2 separate regions of the Homo sapiens genome follow, and region 2 is linked to region 1. A link means that fine-mapping ties the variant in region 1 to the expression of a gene that starts in the linked region. Tissue or cell type: regulatory T cells. Region 1 holds a variant in brackets; the other region holds the start of a gene. All regions are shown on one strand. Distances are between the middles of the regions.

Region 1 (8,095 bases):
TAATTGGGCTAAAAGAAAAGCAAGTTTCTGGTATTTAATGAGGTACTTTCTGGTTCAGGTGTCTTTTTTGTATCAAGGGTAACTTGGAATCCCAGTAGAGCATCTTGGTTGTAACCTATACTGGAAATATGTCTAGGAACTGCTAAAGGGGTGGAAGAGAAGGCCTATGTGTATTTAATCCTGTGAAAAGCACTAATTGCCCAGAATCCTAGACATACTGATTTGATTGTGTTACAGTATGTGTTAACTGTATCTCATCTCTGCAAGATGAGAGCTGAAGATGTGTGTGCAGAGGAGCAAGGGAAGAGGCTTAAGTCTCTACACCAATCCAAAGTCTGTTAGCTATTGCATATCTTGGCAGATAATGGGGAGGAGAGATGTCTAATAATTTGGGGTATTGGTCCTCCAAGGCAGAGAAAGTTGGAGAGATGGAATGCACCTTTGACTAGCCGGTAATCTAACTACTTCTTTCTCTCTTCCAGCCTCTTTCAAGTGGGCTTTATCACTATTATATCATGGAATTGGCCTTCTATTGGTCCCTTATGTTTTCTCAGTTTACAGACATTAAAAGAAAGGTAAGGACGTTGGCTCCCTCAATTCCCCAACTTATTACATCCTCCTTTCTAGCAGCTTCCATGACTGCCATTACGATGTATTATCTTCCCTGAGACTGCAAAAGGAGAAACTGGGTTTGATGGACTCTTAGCTTGTCGTAATGTTCCCAGAAATGAGACTGAATTAATGATGAAGTATATTTAAGACATTCAGGGAAGCCCCAGGATGAGAACAATTAACCAGCTAAGAAGCATACTTTTTTCCATATTCTTCTTTAAGCTTCTTACATATCTAAAGCTCAGGAAACTAGTCAGAATTGGGGGATAGCAATGCCTTATTCAGAAAAAATGTCTGATTCCAGAAAAGCTGGATATGGCTTTCACATGGCATTAGGGACCCTTGCTCTCTCTGTTCTCCCTTTCTGGTTACCCCACTTACTCAAAGAAAGTCAATTGGAAGGGGTTTTGCTCTCTTCCTGCTATTGTTTAGGAAGCAAAGATTGAGAGAAGTGAGCTGACTTGCCCAGATAGTGACAGAGTTGGAAATGACTTAAGTTTTACACAACTTAAGTCATTTAAAGGCAGAATCTTTACCTTTTTATTAGTGTCTACCTGAAATAATGTGGTTCTAGCAGCTCTAACCCTAATCTGTCACTAACTCAGGGTTATCTTTGATGAAGAAAACCAGGGTTAGCATTTATGGGAATGAATTAAAACTTACCCAGGTTGTTAGTGTTATCTAACATAGAAACTTGATACTCAATTTTTATGCCTTTTACTCTCCTATGGTCAGAAGACACAGGTCACTTTATTAAAATTTTATTTTAATTGTGATACATATAAGAAAGTTTGAAATACATATTTAAGTTTTAAAAATAATAAACTGAGAAGTATTTAATAGATGTGTCTGATAACTCAAGTATTTAGAGACTTCCCCAGGTCTAACTTGACATTTGAACCCAAGAGGAAATTAGAGCCACAAACCTCTCCCTTCCATTAGGTCCTTGTGGTTGACGTTTCTCTCATTAAAGCAGAAGAGTCATAGAATCTCAGGGAACTCTAAGGCTTGTATGTCTTACTGGGATGTTATCCCCAAGTGTCAGCTTAGCATCCATGCTATACGTATTCTGCAGTTACCAAAGGAAATTTTTACTTTCTGGCCTCTGAGCTGCATTAACATAGAGTATGGGTCAGTCACTGATGTAGGGAGTGTTCAGTTAAATGCTAGGTAGCCAAGGGAGAGTCTAAGCAGAATGGAAACTTTTTTTTTTTTTTTGAGACGGAATCTCAGTCTGTCGCCCAGGCTGGAGTGCAGTGGCGCGATCTCAGCTCACTGCAACCTCTACCTCCCAGGTTTGAGCAATTCTCCTGCCTCAGCCTCCCGAGTAGCTGGGATTACAGGCACATGCCACCAAGCCCGGCTTATTTTTGTATTTTTAGTAGAGACGGGGCTTCCCCATGTTGGCCAGGCTGGTCTCGAACTCCTGACCTCAGGTGATCCGACCACCTTGCCCTCCCAAAGTGCTGGGATTACAGGCATGAGCCACCTCGCCCGGCCAATGGAAACTATTCTATATGGGGTGGGGTAAGATTCTTAGAGAATAATGCAGGACGTTGGGTTGGCTGGTGTTTCTAGGGCCCAGCTTTTACCTCCCTCTTCTATTTCCATTCCTTCCTAGGACTTCCTGATCATGTTTGTGCATCACTTGGTCACCATTGGGCTTATCTCCTTCTCCTACATCAACAATATGGTTCGAGTGGGAACTCTGATCATGTGTCTACATGATGTCTCAGACTTCTTGCTGGAGGTAAAAACCCAATCTCTCTTTCTCCATCTTCTTCTTCTCTTCTTTTCTTCCTATGTGAGGAATGACTTTCTCCCCAGCTCAATTCTTTCTTCCTTTCTCCAGGCAGCCAAACTGGCCAATTATGCCAAGTATCAGCGGCTCTGTGACACCCTTTTTGTGATCTTCAGTGCTGTTTTTATGGTTACACGACTAGGAATCTATCCATTCTGGTAAGTGGTAGGGCTGTAGAGTTGTGGTAGGTATGAGCCTAATGATACCTTTTTGCCAATTCTCATTTTGCCCATTCAGTTTTTCTGTTCTATTCTATTCTACTTTCGCCAATAGAACACAAGAACCCTATTGCCCTGCTTTTACCTTAGCCTGTGCTGACCTTCTGTGGACTCTCATAGGACCTCTGCTGCCTCAGACCGTATTTCTAGCAAGGTCGGATCCAGACTCAGAGTACCCGGCTTGGTTGGCTTCTCAGGACTGACTCATCTCTGAGGAACAGTCCTCATTTTATGCCTAAGTAATTCCTTTGACTTCTTTTGCACTGTTGATACAATTCTCAGTCCCTTCTTGCTTGTGTTCCTGCTCTGGTCCCAACCCTGACACACACACACACACACACACACACACACACACACACACACTCCTCTCTCTCTCTTCCTCCCTCTCCTCTCTCTCCCTCCCTCCCCTCTCTCCCTCCCTCCTCTCTCTCTCCCTCCCTGTCCTCCTCTCTCTCCCTCCCTCTCCTCTCTCTCTCTTCCTCCCTCTCCTCTCTCTCCCTCCCTCCCCTCTCTCTCCCTCCCTCCTCTCTCTCTCCCTCCCTCTCCTCTCTCTCCCTCCCTCCCTCTCCTCTCTCTCCCTGTCTCCTTTCACTTTTACATTCACTGCTCTATGGGAATCAGCTACCTACTGTCCTATCCTATATGTGCCTGAGGAGCTCAGTCATTCATAGGATTAGAGTCCCACTGCTGTCCTAATTTCGTGAAACTCTGGATATTTGAAGTGATTAATAATGTGACTTAATCCATCAGTTCCTAAGATTTATATATCTTTCTCTGTCCCTAAGGATAGAAAACACAACAGGCTCCTCCCTTTCTTTATTTTCTTACTGTGGATGACGGTCCCTGGAACTTCAGCTGATAAAAGGGCTGGTAGGAAAACACACAGGGCTCTGCATCCCCAGGACTCAGCTTCATCCCTGTCTGCTGAGCTTTGACTCTAGAATCTGACTATTGGCCTCCCTCTTCTAGGATTCTGAACACGACCCTCTTTGAGAGTTGGGAGATAATCGGGCCTTATGCTTCATGGTGGCTCCTCAATGGCCTGCTGCTGACCCTACAGCTTCTGCATGTCATCTGGTCCTACCTAATTGCACGGATTGCTTTGAAAGCCTTGATCAGGGGAAAGGTGAGGATGAAAGATGGCTTCTTTCTTTTGGGTATGGAAGATAGGGATTACTCAACAGACGTTCTCTCTCCATCAAACCTGGTGAGCCCCATCTACTCAAGCAGGCCAAGCAAAAAGCCTAGGGCTCCAAAGTCTTCGCCTCTTCGGTAAGTGTTTTGCCTTTTTTATTTTAGAGACAAGGTCTTGCTCTGTCACCCAGGCTGGAGTTCAGTGGCATGATCATAGCTTACTGCAGCCTCACACCTGGGCTTGGATTCTCCCACTGCAGCCTCCCAAGTAGCTGGGACTATAGGTGTGCACCACCACGCCTGGCTAATTTTCTTATTTTTTGTAGATAGGGTGTCACTATGTTACCCAGGCCAATGTCCAACTACTGGCCTCAAGCAGTCCTCCCACCACGGCTTCCCAAAGCGATGGAATTACAGGTGTGAGCCACCACACCAAGCCTGTTTTACCTTTTTTTTTTTTTTTTTT[C/TTTTTC]AGATGGAATCTCGCTCTGTTGCCCAGGCTGGAGTGCAATGTCACGATCTTGGCTCACCACAACCTCCACCTCCTGGGTTCAAGCGATTCTCCTGCCTCAGCCTCCCTAGTAGCTGGGATTACAGGCGCATGCCACCAGGCCTGGCTAATTTTTGTATTCTTAGTAGAAACGGGGTTTCACTATGTTGGCCAGGCTGGTCTCTAACTCCCGACCTTGTGATCTGCCCACCTTGGCCTCCCGAAGTGCTGGGATTACAGGCGTGAGCCACCGCACCTGGCCTGCCTGTTTTACCTTTTAAGATGTGACTTAGACGCAAGAGGAAAGTTCTACCTTCTTCCTGTCCCTTAGGAATGGCTTTTGTTAAAGGATGATAGGGTTAAGAGTTTTTTAAGAGATGGCCTCAACCATTTCCTACCCCTTACCTACCTGCTTCAGTGGATTTCATATTTTTCTTTTTGACATGGGGCCCTTTTCAAAGGAAATCATATGCAGAACCATATAAACTGTATAAAAGCAGATTGTTAAGTTGCCTAGAAGTGGTGTGTGGTAGTTCACAAGCCACCACAAGGTGACCATGCTGTGATATTCAAGATATGGTTTATATAAGGAACTAAATACCCACCTCACCCCACTAGTGTATGAGGCAAGTGTCCTAAGTGAATGGGTATGTAGTGTTTCAAATACCCATCTTATGCCAAGAGCGAAAGAAAGGTGCCACTTAATGATAAACTCATAATTGAACTTTGCAAGTTTTGAAGCAGTCAGACTGTAGTCAAAGGGCTAGGGATTTCAGCCTAAAGGAATACAGAATCCCAAGTGGGAGGGGCTCTGCTTGAGCAGGTACTGATACTAGGACCAAGTGATGGAATGTGGCCTAGATATTGATGATCTCCTGCATCATTATTCCTTATAGCTGCCATTGGCTCAGAACTTGCTCAGTGTGCCTGTGCATCTTGCTGTAGCTACTGGACATCTCTGTTCTCTCCTGCTTTTCTTTCCTGACTAGGTGACCTGTCCAGGAAGGATTAGACCCTGTACTCTCCACTCTTTCCTCACCTCCTTCCTTTTTTCTATGCCTGGCGGGAGCTGGACAGTTTCATCTCTTGCATGTAAGTGTATCTGTGCTTCTAGTATTCAGTGAGGCATGTCCATCTGAATGTGGTTCTCTTTCCTCCTGCTCTCCTTTCTGTTCCCTTGTGTTTGTCTCAGAGCATGCCCTCTCTCCTGACTTTTCGGGGCCATTATTGACTAGAGCTGCAGTTGCCAGATTTTTTCCTAAACTGAGGCAAGAATTGAGTCTACTTTTTTTTGTTTTTCTTGAGTCTCTGTTTACCTCAAATCTAGAGACACTCTGCCCTCTAGTGGAAATTTCCTAAAGGTCAGGTAATCAGTTAGTCATCTAAGTTCAGAGGCCAACAGCTATAATCAACTGTAGAAGACCCATCCAACACAAATTCAAGGAGCTGATCCAAAGCAAATGCCCACCTCCTTGGCAACAGTTGTTACAGCTGTGTTCCTTTTCACTTCCTTCTCTCCTTTACTTAAACCACATTTATTATCCTTCAGTTCTGGAGGTCAGAAGTCCGACACAGGTCTCACTGGATTTCTGTTCTTTACTATTAGAGTCCAGGGTAATTTTTTTTTTTTAATTTTTATTTATTTATTTTTGAGACAGAGTTTAGCTCTTGTTGCCCAGGCTGGAGTGCAATGGCGTGATCTTGGCTCACTGCAACCTCTGCCTGCCCAGTTCAAGCGAGTCTCCTGCCTCAGCCTCCTGAGTAGCTGGGATTACAGGCATACGCCACCACGCCTGGCTAATTTTTTTGTATTTTTAGTAGAGACGGGGTTTCTTCATGTTGGTCTGGCTGGTCTCGAACTCCCGACCTCAGGTGATGCGCCCACTTCAGCCTCCCAAAGTGCTGGGATTACAGGCGTAAGCCACCATGCTCGGCCCTTTTTTTTTTTAGAGACAAGGTTTTGCTCCATTGCCCAGGCTGGAGTACAGTGGCGCAATCATGGCTCACTGCAGCCTCGACCTCCTGGGCTCAAGAGATGCTCCTGCCTCAGCCTCCCAAGTAGCTAGGACTACAGGTGCATGTCACCATGCCCAACTGATTTTGTCATTTTTTATTTTTTGTAGAGACAGGGCTCTCTCCATGTTGCCCAGGCTGGTCTCAAACTCTTGGGCTCAAGCTGTCCTCCTCCCTCAGCCTCCCAAAGTGCTAGGATTATAGGTGTAAGCCACTGTGCCTGGCTCATGGTGGAGAAATTGAAATACTTTGCTTGATATGCAGGATAGTTTAGATTAGGAAATGCTGCTGTAATCCAAATGCTTCATTTGAAAATAATACAAAACAAAAAAACCCAGGTTAATAAGCATTCACAGATGGTAGCATGATTAGAACTGGGATTCTTTTCTCATTGACTGCCAATCCATTTGTGTTTTCACTATACTGTGTATCTTGGGGATGCTGAAGTTTCTTTTTTTTTTTCTTTTTTTTTTTTTTTTTTTGAGATGGAGTCTCACTCTGTCGCCCACGCTGGAGTGCAGTGGCACGATCTCAGCTCACTGCAACCTCCACCTCCGGGGTTCAAGAGATTCTCCTGCCTCAGCCTCCTGAGTAGCTGGGATTACAGGTGCGCGCCACCACACCCGGCTAATTTTTGTATTTTTAGTAGAGACAGGGTTTCTCCATGTTGCTCAGGCTGGTCTCAAACTCCTGACCTTGTGATCCGCCTGCCTCGGCCTCCCAAAGTGCTGGGATTACAGGCGTGAGCCACCACGCCCAGCCAGGGATGCTGAAGTTTCATAAGAAAAGTGATCTTGCTATTGGGAAAGGGAAGAAGATTGGAAAACAGTGTCATAGGATAGTGGTAGTTGAGCCCAGGAGTGGGAAACTACTAAAAAAGGCCTGTTATGGATCAGCTTTGGGGATAAAGCAAAACAGCATAACCAATACGAATAAATGCATTGTCCACAACCACCAGAAGATAGAAGCATTGCTGACAGTCATACGTATTGTTCGTGTTGGCCTTCCCTGTTCTTTGAAGTGGAAGAAGAGAAAGGGTGTCTGAAACCTAAACCAGGTCTCAGTGAATGATGTCAGTTCTCTTAGGCTGGTCCTGAAAGACACACTCCTCTACCAAAGTAGCTTCAATTCCACAGAGAACAGAATTGGAGATGACAAGGGAGAAAACTAGAAAGCAGGTAAAGCATAGTCACAACAGTAGCCATAGTCCAGACAATACTTCTTTGAGTTAGATGTCATCAGAAAGCAGACCAGACTGGGAACACAGTGCCCACACCTGGGTCTCTGAGCTTAGGTGTCTTACAGTTCTTTCCTCACTTTTCTGTCTTTGGTCTCATCCCACCCAGGTATCGAAGGATGATCGCAGTGATGTGGAGAGCAGCTCAGAGGAAGAAGATGTGACCACCTGCACAAAAAGTCCCTGTGACAGTAGCTCCAGCAATGGTGCCAATCGGGTGAATGGTCACATGGGAGGCAGCTACTGGGCTGAAGAGTAAGGTGGTTGCTATAGGGACTTCAGCACACATGGACTTGTAGGGCCACTGGCAACATACTCCTCTTGGCCCTTCCCATATCTACTCTTCTGTGATTGGGAGACTGCAAGGCACTGAGGAGTATCAAAGAAGCAAATATTTTCACTTTGAAAGAAAACTGCCATTTTGTATTTAATAGCCTCCAGGTTCTTTCAGTAATGTTATTTGCTCTGTGTGTTTTTGTGTGTTTGTTGATGTGCGTTTGTGCATATGCGTGAGTTTCATTGCCGGGGTTGGGGCACAATTGTGGACTGGGGCCATGAGGCCTTCCCTGGTCCCCACTGAACCCACCTTAGTTCCA
Region 2 (8,082 bases), 77 kb after region 1:
TGGGAGGTCTTGCACAGCTAGAAACACTAAGCATGACTATGGTGCCATCCTTTCTGCACAAATACAGTTCATATTCCCATACTGCAGGAGGAAGCAAGCAAGCGGGGAGAAAATAGGCAGGAAGAAGGAAGAGAATCCAAGAGCTGAGTAGGCATGGAGAGCAAAGGGTCCTGGAAAAGACTGGCAAGAATTTGAAGTGGACACAATAACCCCAGGGTCCACAATATTAATTAAAAGAGTAAAGGACATTTTCAGCTTAACAAGACATGAGTTCTAATCCTGAACCTGTCACCTGTCACTAACTGTGTGAGCTTGGGTAAATCATTCTGCCTGTGTCTCAGTTTCGTGCATTTGTAAAACAGAGGTAATGTGATTATGTATCAAGGGGATTGAGGGGAGCCTAGAAAGCATTTGAAAGAGTTACAAGCATTGTCCATTCATTTGGTGTTATTGTTCCTGCATGGCTCTGGAGCCTCTGGTCTCTTTGCCATCTGGGTCCAGGTCTTAACCCTCAGGAATCTGTGTGACTTGCCCAGGGTTGCCCAGCACATCAGATGCCAAAATCAGTTTCCCTATGCCCTCCCTGAGGTGCTGGCCTGAGGCAGCCACATCTGTGGGGCATCTCCATTTTAAGATGCAAAGGAAGCCTCCAGGGCAGCCATGACTGGGTGTCCCGATGGCCTTCCTTTCCTCAGATCCTGGCTCTGCGGCTCTTGCCGGCAAGCAGGAAACCTAACCAAACAGTGTATGTGTCTATGTATGGGGTGCGGATGGCACACAGGGAGTTACTGTCTGGCTATTTAAGAGAAGGTTTCCCTTACTTGTGCTTCACGGTGCTTCTCAAACTTTAGTGTATACTCCAGTCACCTGAGGATCTTATTAGATGGAGATTCTGGTTCAGTAGGTTTGGGAAGTGGGGTGGCAAAGTCCTGCATTCCTTTCAAGCTCCCAGTTGATGGTCCTGGACCTCACTACAAGTAACACGGCTGTAGCTTACCCACCTGTCTGCTCAGCTCTGACACCTGTGGCCTAGAAGGTAAGCTTGGTGGGTTTGTGGCTATGCCAGACCACGCACGTGTGTGCATATATGTGTGTGTTGTGCACTGTAGGCTCTCTTTCCTGCCATCATGGCTGCAAGGCTGAGGCTCAGGTGCTCATGCAGTGAGTGCAAATGTGCCCCTATGCTGAACAAACTCCCCTTCTACTAGAAGCAAACCCCAGGACATACAACTTCCTCTCCCAGAGTAGCAAGCACCCGGAGAGGCCCAGCCTGCTCCTTGTCTCCTCCTCCTCCTCTGTGGGCCAGGCTGACTCACACCCCACACGAGGGGACTCACCACCTTGAAGTCTTCAGCGCTGCAGACCTCCCCCCGGAAGTGGCAGGAGAGCAGCATGTCTCGAATGTCGTGCCCAGCTCGGTCGTAGAACTCACGCATGTTGAAGGGTTTGGGTTTGAAGCTGCGGAAGTTGGCTTTGTCCTGCAGTATCTCCAGCTGCTTTTCATCTGCCATCTGTGTGTCTGGTATCTCATACCTGGGGTCCGGGGGTGAGTGACACACGGGTCAGTACAGTCATCAGTGTCCTGCACCCAACTTGGGTGATGGGGGCAGCCTCCAGCCCTGGGGATCAGTCCCAGGTGTAGGCAAGGAAGGAGAGCTGGGCATGCAGAGGCTCTACCACATGGGTCTGAAATGACAGGAGGAACTGTAGTGGCTGCCCAGGGGCAGGGCATCCCATCCCAGCACATGGGTGAGAGGAAGCATGGATAAGGTGGGCAGAGAGACAAGGCAGGGGCTGTGGCTTTTATACTGTAGTTTCTACCCTTTAAAGATGTTCTGTCCCCATCCCCCAACTGACGAGAAGGTCAAGACAGAGTGGCCAGAATGAAGGTAAAGCTCACTCCAGAGAGGGTGACAATGTCTCATACCTCAGGCTGGGTGGGGGTCGAGCTGTTCTGGACTATGCTGGGATCGGAGGCTGGGTGCCCTTAACTGGGTGCTCAGCAGCACCCTAACTCCTCTGCTGTGAGTGGCAGGTTTGGGGGTGGGGGTGGGTTAAAGGGCAGGGTTGGCTGGGCTCTATGGTGGGTCAGGGAGGCAGACATCCTGACTGGAACTCAAGCAACTCCAGGAGCAGGGCTGAGGGAGGGTGGGAGCCACCCACCTGTTGTTGAGCAGGGCCAGCAGCTCCCCAGCATGATACAGGTCATTCTTGGAGACTTGGCTAAAGCGGAACTCGTTGAGGTTGCACAGCGTGACAGCAGGGAAGGTAAGCTGAGAGGCAGCCACCTCGTCGAGCTTGGTGACATGGTGGTAGTGGAAGTAGTACTGCACACGCTCCGTGCACACACACAGCAGCACAGCCAGGGAGCCCAGGAAGCACAGGGCCCACAGTGCCCGCTTCAGAGACAGCCGCTCGTAGGAGAAGATGTGGGCCAGGCCGTGCAGTGTGGAGCTGCTGGCGAAGGCCTGGATGCTCACCGGCTGGACGCCACCCACCTCCTCCTCCTCGGCCTTCAGTTCCATCCTTGTTGAGGGGATCCTGGGGGAGGAGGGAGGGACAGTCTATCATTGTCCTGGGATGAAAGTACACATGGAGCCCCTCCACATGTGCCCATCCAGAATCCTCATCTCCAGAGGTCACCACTCCTCGGGCAGAAGACTTCCCTGCTTTGCAAGCCCAGAGGTGGCTGACCAAGGGACACATCCAGGGTTCCTCCAAATACAGAGGCACAGGGGGTCAGGTCAGGCCAAGAGAATGCTCCCCAGAGAAGCTTCCCAGGCCCGGGGAGACCCCAGATATAGTCATCCGAGGTTGAGGGGGAAGTCCTGATGCACCCATAGGCAGGCGCAGGAGTTCCCTCCAGATGTGGGGTCACTCTGGGACAAGAATATCCACCCCATCCTGGAGATGAAAACTCACCCAGATGGGCTGACCCCGGGGTAAGGAGCTCCTGTCCTGGTCACGGGTATTCCCTGGACGGGGCTGTGGTCCTAAGGGCTAAACTGGGGCCAGAAAACCCCCAGGGAGGTGGCTACATCTAGGGAGGGGCCCAGCCTGAGTCCTCACCTGCGGGTGTCTCCAGTTCTCACATAAGCGCAGGCTGTGTGTATGTTGGGAGTGGGGGGTGGCGGGCTGCCCGAGGTGGATGTATGGAGGGGGGGCGCGGTTCCCTATGACAGCGAGCTGTCCCCGCCCCGGACGCAGCCCCCCCCAGTCCAGCTTCTCGTCGCAGTCAGATCCCCAGCTCGGCCCCCGCCCCCCTCCCCAGCCACCGAGCCGCCCCAGCAGCAAGGGAAATCCAGAGGGAGGAGAGTCCCGGCTTCGGGGTACCGAGGAGCCTCGCGGCCAAAGGCAGGGGTATCGGAAACCCACCTGAGGGGGCTTCGGCAAGCCGGCAGCCGGCGGCGGGTCCTGGGGCGCTGGACCGGTGGCGGGCTCAGCGCCGAGTCGCGGAGGGGCTCATGGCCCGGGGCCGGAGCCCGCGGCCGCCGCGGCACGCCGCGCAGAGCCCTGCAGGGAGCGCCCCGCCCGGCCCCGCTCGGCTCCGATCTGTCCGCCCGCCCGCGCGCGCTGGCTCGCTGGCTCGCTCGCCTCGGCTCGGTCTGCCCGGGCTCGGCGCGGTGCGCGGTGCTCTCAGCCCTGGGATCTGCAGGGATCCATCGTCCGGCCGGGAGGCGGCGGGAGGGGAGGGGGAGGGGAGAGGGTGCGCGTGCGCGCCTACGAGTGTCTGCGAGGCTGTCTCTGGGCTGGTGTGCGCGCGGGGCCCCGGATCCGGGAGCGGGACCCAGGGCTCCCCGCGCCGCCTCGCCCCTCCTCGCGGCCGCTTTCGGCGGCGCTGCCTCTCTCCAGTCCCGGAGCCGTCTCCCTGCCTGCGAGGCCCTATGGCTTGTGTGTATGACTCTGTGTGTGGTGTGTGTGCGCGCGCGCGTGTGTGCGCGCAGGAGGGAGGGTGTCTGCCCCTAGCGTCCCTCTCCCCGCGCTGTCTCCTTCGGATCGATGCTCCTGCCTCTTGCTGCTGCTTCCTCTGGTGGCACACACGCGCGTACACACACACATACACACACACGCTCCGAGTCACACTTGACTAATTCAAGCACTTAGCCCATATGGAGACAGACACACATACCGACCAGAGTCACACCACACCATTCACAACCACACCCCCCCGCAACAGATGTCCACGTATCCCGGGGGCCTGACCCACATGGCAAGCACTCACCTGCTCTTATCCCTGCTCCCACCTGCATGTGACACATATACACGTGCACATATGTGAGCCAACACGCAGCCTTGACCACTCAGATCCCATCCTTGTAGCTTTGGGCTTGTGGGGGGCATGGTCGCAACCCCTTACTGCCAAATCTCCAAAGAAGGAGCAGAGAAAAGGAAGGAAAAATAGCCAGAGGTCAAGGGAATTTGGACAGAAGGAAGGAGGCAAAGGGAGTGAAGGGGACAGGGTGAGGAAGGGTTGGAACGGGGAGCTATGCTCAGGGATGGAGCAGAAGTCTCAGCACAGAACGCAGGCCTGGGGGCTGCTCCTGTGGCTCTCACCTTTCTCCTTCCCTGCCTCCCTCCTCTTCTCTGAGAGGCCTTGGGGAGGGGGGCCCTCCCTATCCAATTAACAGAGAAGGAGCAATCAAGGGGAAGTTGTTAATTTGCTGATGCTCATTAGGGGCTCTTAGCACAGAGGCTGTTGAGGTCTGATGGTGTCAGATGATGAGGAGGAGGGTGCGGGGGACCAGAGTTCTGTCTCTAGTGGCTCCTTCGCTCTACTTGCAGGCTGGTGCGGCTCGGGGAGAAGGATGGTGAGAGGTGTATTCCTAGGACATGGTGCCGGGCTTTAAGTTAGAAGAAAACCTGTAACGAGAAGGGGATGGCACATTGGAAAGAAGTTGGATGAGAAGTTGGGAGTAGTGGACATCTAGGAAACCAGAGAAGGGGTCTGGAGGTCCCTAGTGGGAGAGTGGACTTAAGATTGTGGAGGAGGGAGGTCGAGATCCATTTACTAGGGGACTGGACACGGAGCTGCCAAAAGGAAGGGAGGATCTTCCATTCAGGTCTTGGGGAGCTGTTCAGCGGTACCAGGCAGTGCTGGAGGGTTGCTATGCCCCCGGGCAGCCACTGGGTGGCAGCCCTCTCCCAGATACTTAGAATCAACTCGTGGGGGGCATTTGAGAGTGGGAAATCACCTGGGAGGGTCCCAGAGACCTGAGGAAGCATCAGGCAGAGTCTGATTCCTGAATTCCAAATATCCTCAGGGGGAGGGGAACACTATTTTGGAGCATCTGTAATTTCCCCACCTCCCCGCGGCTCGCAGGCTGACTGACACGTGGAGCCTCTTCAAATGGCTGCAATTGCTTCAGTCACCTGGGATGTTACTGAGGGAGCAGCGGGGGTGGAGGGAAGGTGATGAGGTGAGGTGGAGGCAGGCGAGGACTGATTGAGGCCAAGGAGCAGCCTCAGGAGGAGTCTGGGGGAAGACAGAAGGTATGAATCAGGAGAATCAGCTTCCAGACCTGGCCCTGCCATTCATTAGCATAGGCAGGCCCCTTGACCTCTCTGGACCTCGGTTTCCTCATCTGTAAGGCAGAGATAATATTTATTTCACAGGATTTTTCGAGGATTACATGAGCTAACGCATGGAAAGTGCTTAGTACATTGGCATGTACCTAGTAAATCCCAATAAGTAAATAACTATTATTAGTATTAGCATTTGGATCTAGTGGTAAAACCACCAGTGCAGCCAAACCAGGGCAGAATCTAAGGCACTGGTTCTTAACCCAGGCTGCACATTCGAATCACCTGGGGAGCTTTTAAAACTGCAATGCCAGCTGGGCGCGGTGGCTCACTCCTGTAATCCCAGCACTTTGGGAGGCAGAGGAGGGTGGATCGCCTGAGGTCAGGAGTTTGAGACCAACCTGGCCAACATGGTGAAACCCATCTCTACTAAAAATACAAAAAGTAGCTGGGCGTGGTGGCGGGCACCTGTAATCCCAGCTACTCGAGAGGCTGAGGCAGGAGAATCATTTGAACCTGGGAGGCGGAGGTTGCAGTGAGCCGAGATTGTGCTATTGCACTCTAGCCGGGGAGACAAGAGCGAAACTCCATTTCAAAAAATAAAAATAATAAGATAAAACTGCAATGCCAGCCAGGCGTGGTGGCTCACGCCTGCAATCCCAGCACTTTGGGAGGCCGAGGTGAGTGGATCACCTGAGGTCAGGAGACCAACCTGGCCAACATGGTGAAACCCTGCCTCCACAGAAAATACAAAAATTAGCCAGGCGTGGTGGCACGCACCTGTAATCCCAGCTACTCAGGAGGCTGAGGCAGAAGTGCTTGAACCCGGGAGACAGAGGTTGCAGTGATCGGAGATCGTGCCACTGCACTCTAGCCTGGGCAACAGAGCGAGACTCTGTCTCAGAAAAAAAAAAAAAAAACTGCAATGCCATGGCTCCACTTTAGACCAGTTAAATCAGAATCTCTGGGGCTGTGGCGCGATCTTGGCTCACTGCAAGCTCAGTCTCCTGGGTTCACGCCATTCTCCTGCCTCAGCCTCCCAAGTAGCTGGGACTACAGGCACCCGCCACTACACCTGGCAAAGTTTTTTGTATTTTTAGTAGAGACGGGGTTTCACCGTGTTAGCCAGGATGGTCTCAATCTCCTGACCTTGTGATCCACCCGTCTCAGCCTCCCAAAGTGCTGGGATTATAGGCGTGAGCCACCATACCCGGCCTTTTTTTTTTTTTTTTTTTTTAAGTTGGGGTCTCACCCTGTCGCCCAGGCTGGAGTGCAATGGCACAATCTCGGCTCACTGCAACCTCCGCCTCCCCGGTTCAAGAGGTTCTTCTGCCTCAGCCTCCCGAGTAGCTGGGATTACAGGCGCACACCACGACGCCCGGCTAATTTTTTGTATCTTTTGTAGAGCTGGGGGTTTCACCATGTAGGCTTGAACTCCCGACCTCAGGTGATCCACCCACCTTGGCCTCCCAAAGTGCTGGGATTACAGGCATGAGCCACTGCGCCCGGACAATCGCCCAACTTTTTGAGGCCTTTAACATATAGCCAATCTTGAGCAACCTTGCTCTTCAGAACTTATGGGTCTGAATTATGGTTTCATAGTGTCACAGGCCCCAGTCTTAGGAAGTTCTTTCTTATATACAACCTAAATCCCTCATGCTGTTGTTTCTTCTTCGTTTGAGAAGTGATGGGTCCTTGCACACACACATCCCCTCATCCCTACCCTGTACATCGCAGCAAACCTTCACCGAGGGTTTTCCTGGATCAAGCCCCAAGATTGGCCCTGTGGACATGGTGAGGATTGGCAGAGTCCTTGCCTCAAAATATCCCAGTGTGGAAAGAGAGACAAACATGTTGACTTGTGACTCTAGTGCAAGGGCCAGGAGTGAAATAGAAGGCTGAGCCAGGGCTGCCAGCAGAGAGAGGCAGGGGGGCAGTCACTCTGACAGGGGTTTGTGGGACAAGGATGAGGAAAAGAGGAAGTTGGTGTTGGCAGGGCCTTAGTAAGATAACACTTGAGGGATCCAAGGGCTGTGATTAGTGTCTCATTACTTCTTTCTGCTTCTCTGGCCCACCCACCCCTTGTCCAAGTCCTGACAGAGGATACTGGCTCCTTCAGCATCCTCCCAGCTTCTTCTCCATGCTTCGTTTTCTCTGGACCCTGCAGTCCTTAGACCTCAGTACCCTTTATCCCCACCACGGACTGAGAGGGAAACAGGCCTGAAGATATTTCTCCTTCTGCTGGCAGGAGGCATCTAGCCAGGGCCCACTTAGGACTTTGGCCTTGTGCTCACCTAGGTTCAAATCTCAGCTCTGTCACACCAGTGCTGTGTGGCCCTGGGCAAGTAACCTAGCCTGAGTCTCACTTTTCTCCAGAAACCATAAAACCCAGCTAATGCCCATGCTGTTGAAACAATGTGTGTCTAGCAAACAGTAGGGGGTGTTCCATCAATAGTGGCAAGCATTATGATCATCCCTGAAAGGCTGATGGGGGCAAATTCCCCATGGATGCTTCCCTTGCAGATGGCCCCATCTGCTTTAGGTGCAGAAGCGCCCTCCAGC

Direction of the effects. Positions count from the first base shown, and alleles are read on the strand shown. Sizes are in standard deviations (SD) of each study's normalised expression.
In carriers of allele C in region 1, the expression in regulatory T cells of the gene that starts at base 3,696 in region 2 tends to be higher than with TTTTTC alone (large effect, 1.9 SD a copy in Schmiedel 2018).

Evidence for each region. PIP is the estimated chance that this variant, and not a neighbour inherited with it, causes the effect.
Region 2: it holds the start of ASIC1, and the variant in region 1 is fine-mapped to the expression of ASIC1 in regulatory T cells (Schmiedel 2018, PIP 0.95).

The regions. Positions count from the first base shown.
Region 1 is chr12:50,130,208-50,138,302 of GRCh38, reverse strand. It overlaps CERS5 (ceramide synthase 5), which reads left to right. Exons shown (of 10, transcript NM_147190.5): 6 at 483-575; 7 at 2,234-2,362; 8 at 2,465-2,571; 9 at 3,601-3,757; 10 at 7,609-8,095. The coding sequence ends at 7,758. Among named protein-coding and RNA genes, the nearest start is that of COX14, 22 kb to the right of the region's middle. The variant C/TTTTTC (reference allele first, on the strand shown) is at 4,232.
Region 2 is chr12:50,053,210-50,061,291 of GRCh38, reverse strand. ASIC1 (acid sensing ion channel subunit 1) reads right to left here and starts at 3,696. Exons shown (of 12, transcript NM_001095.4): 1 at 3,376-3,696; 2 at 2,164-2,541; 3 at 1,338-1,533. The coding sequence starts at 2,525. RefSeq lists silencers at 3,494-3,663, 3,734-3,893.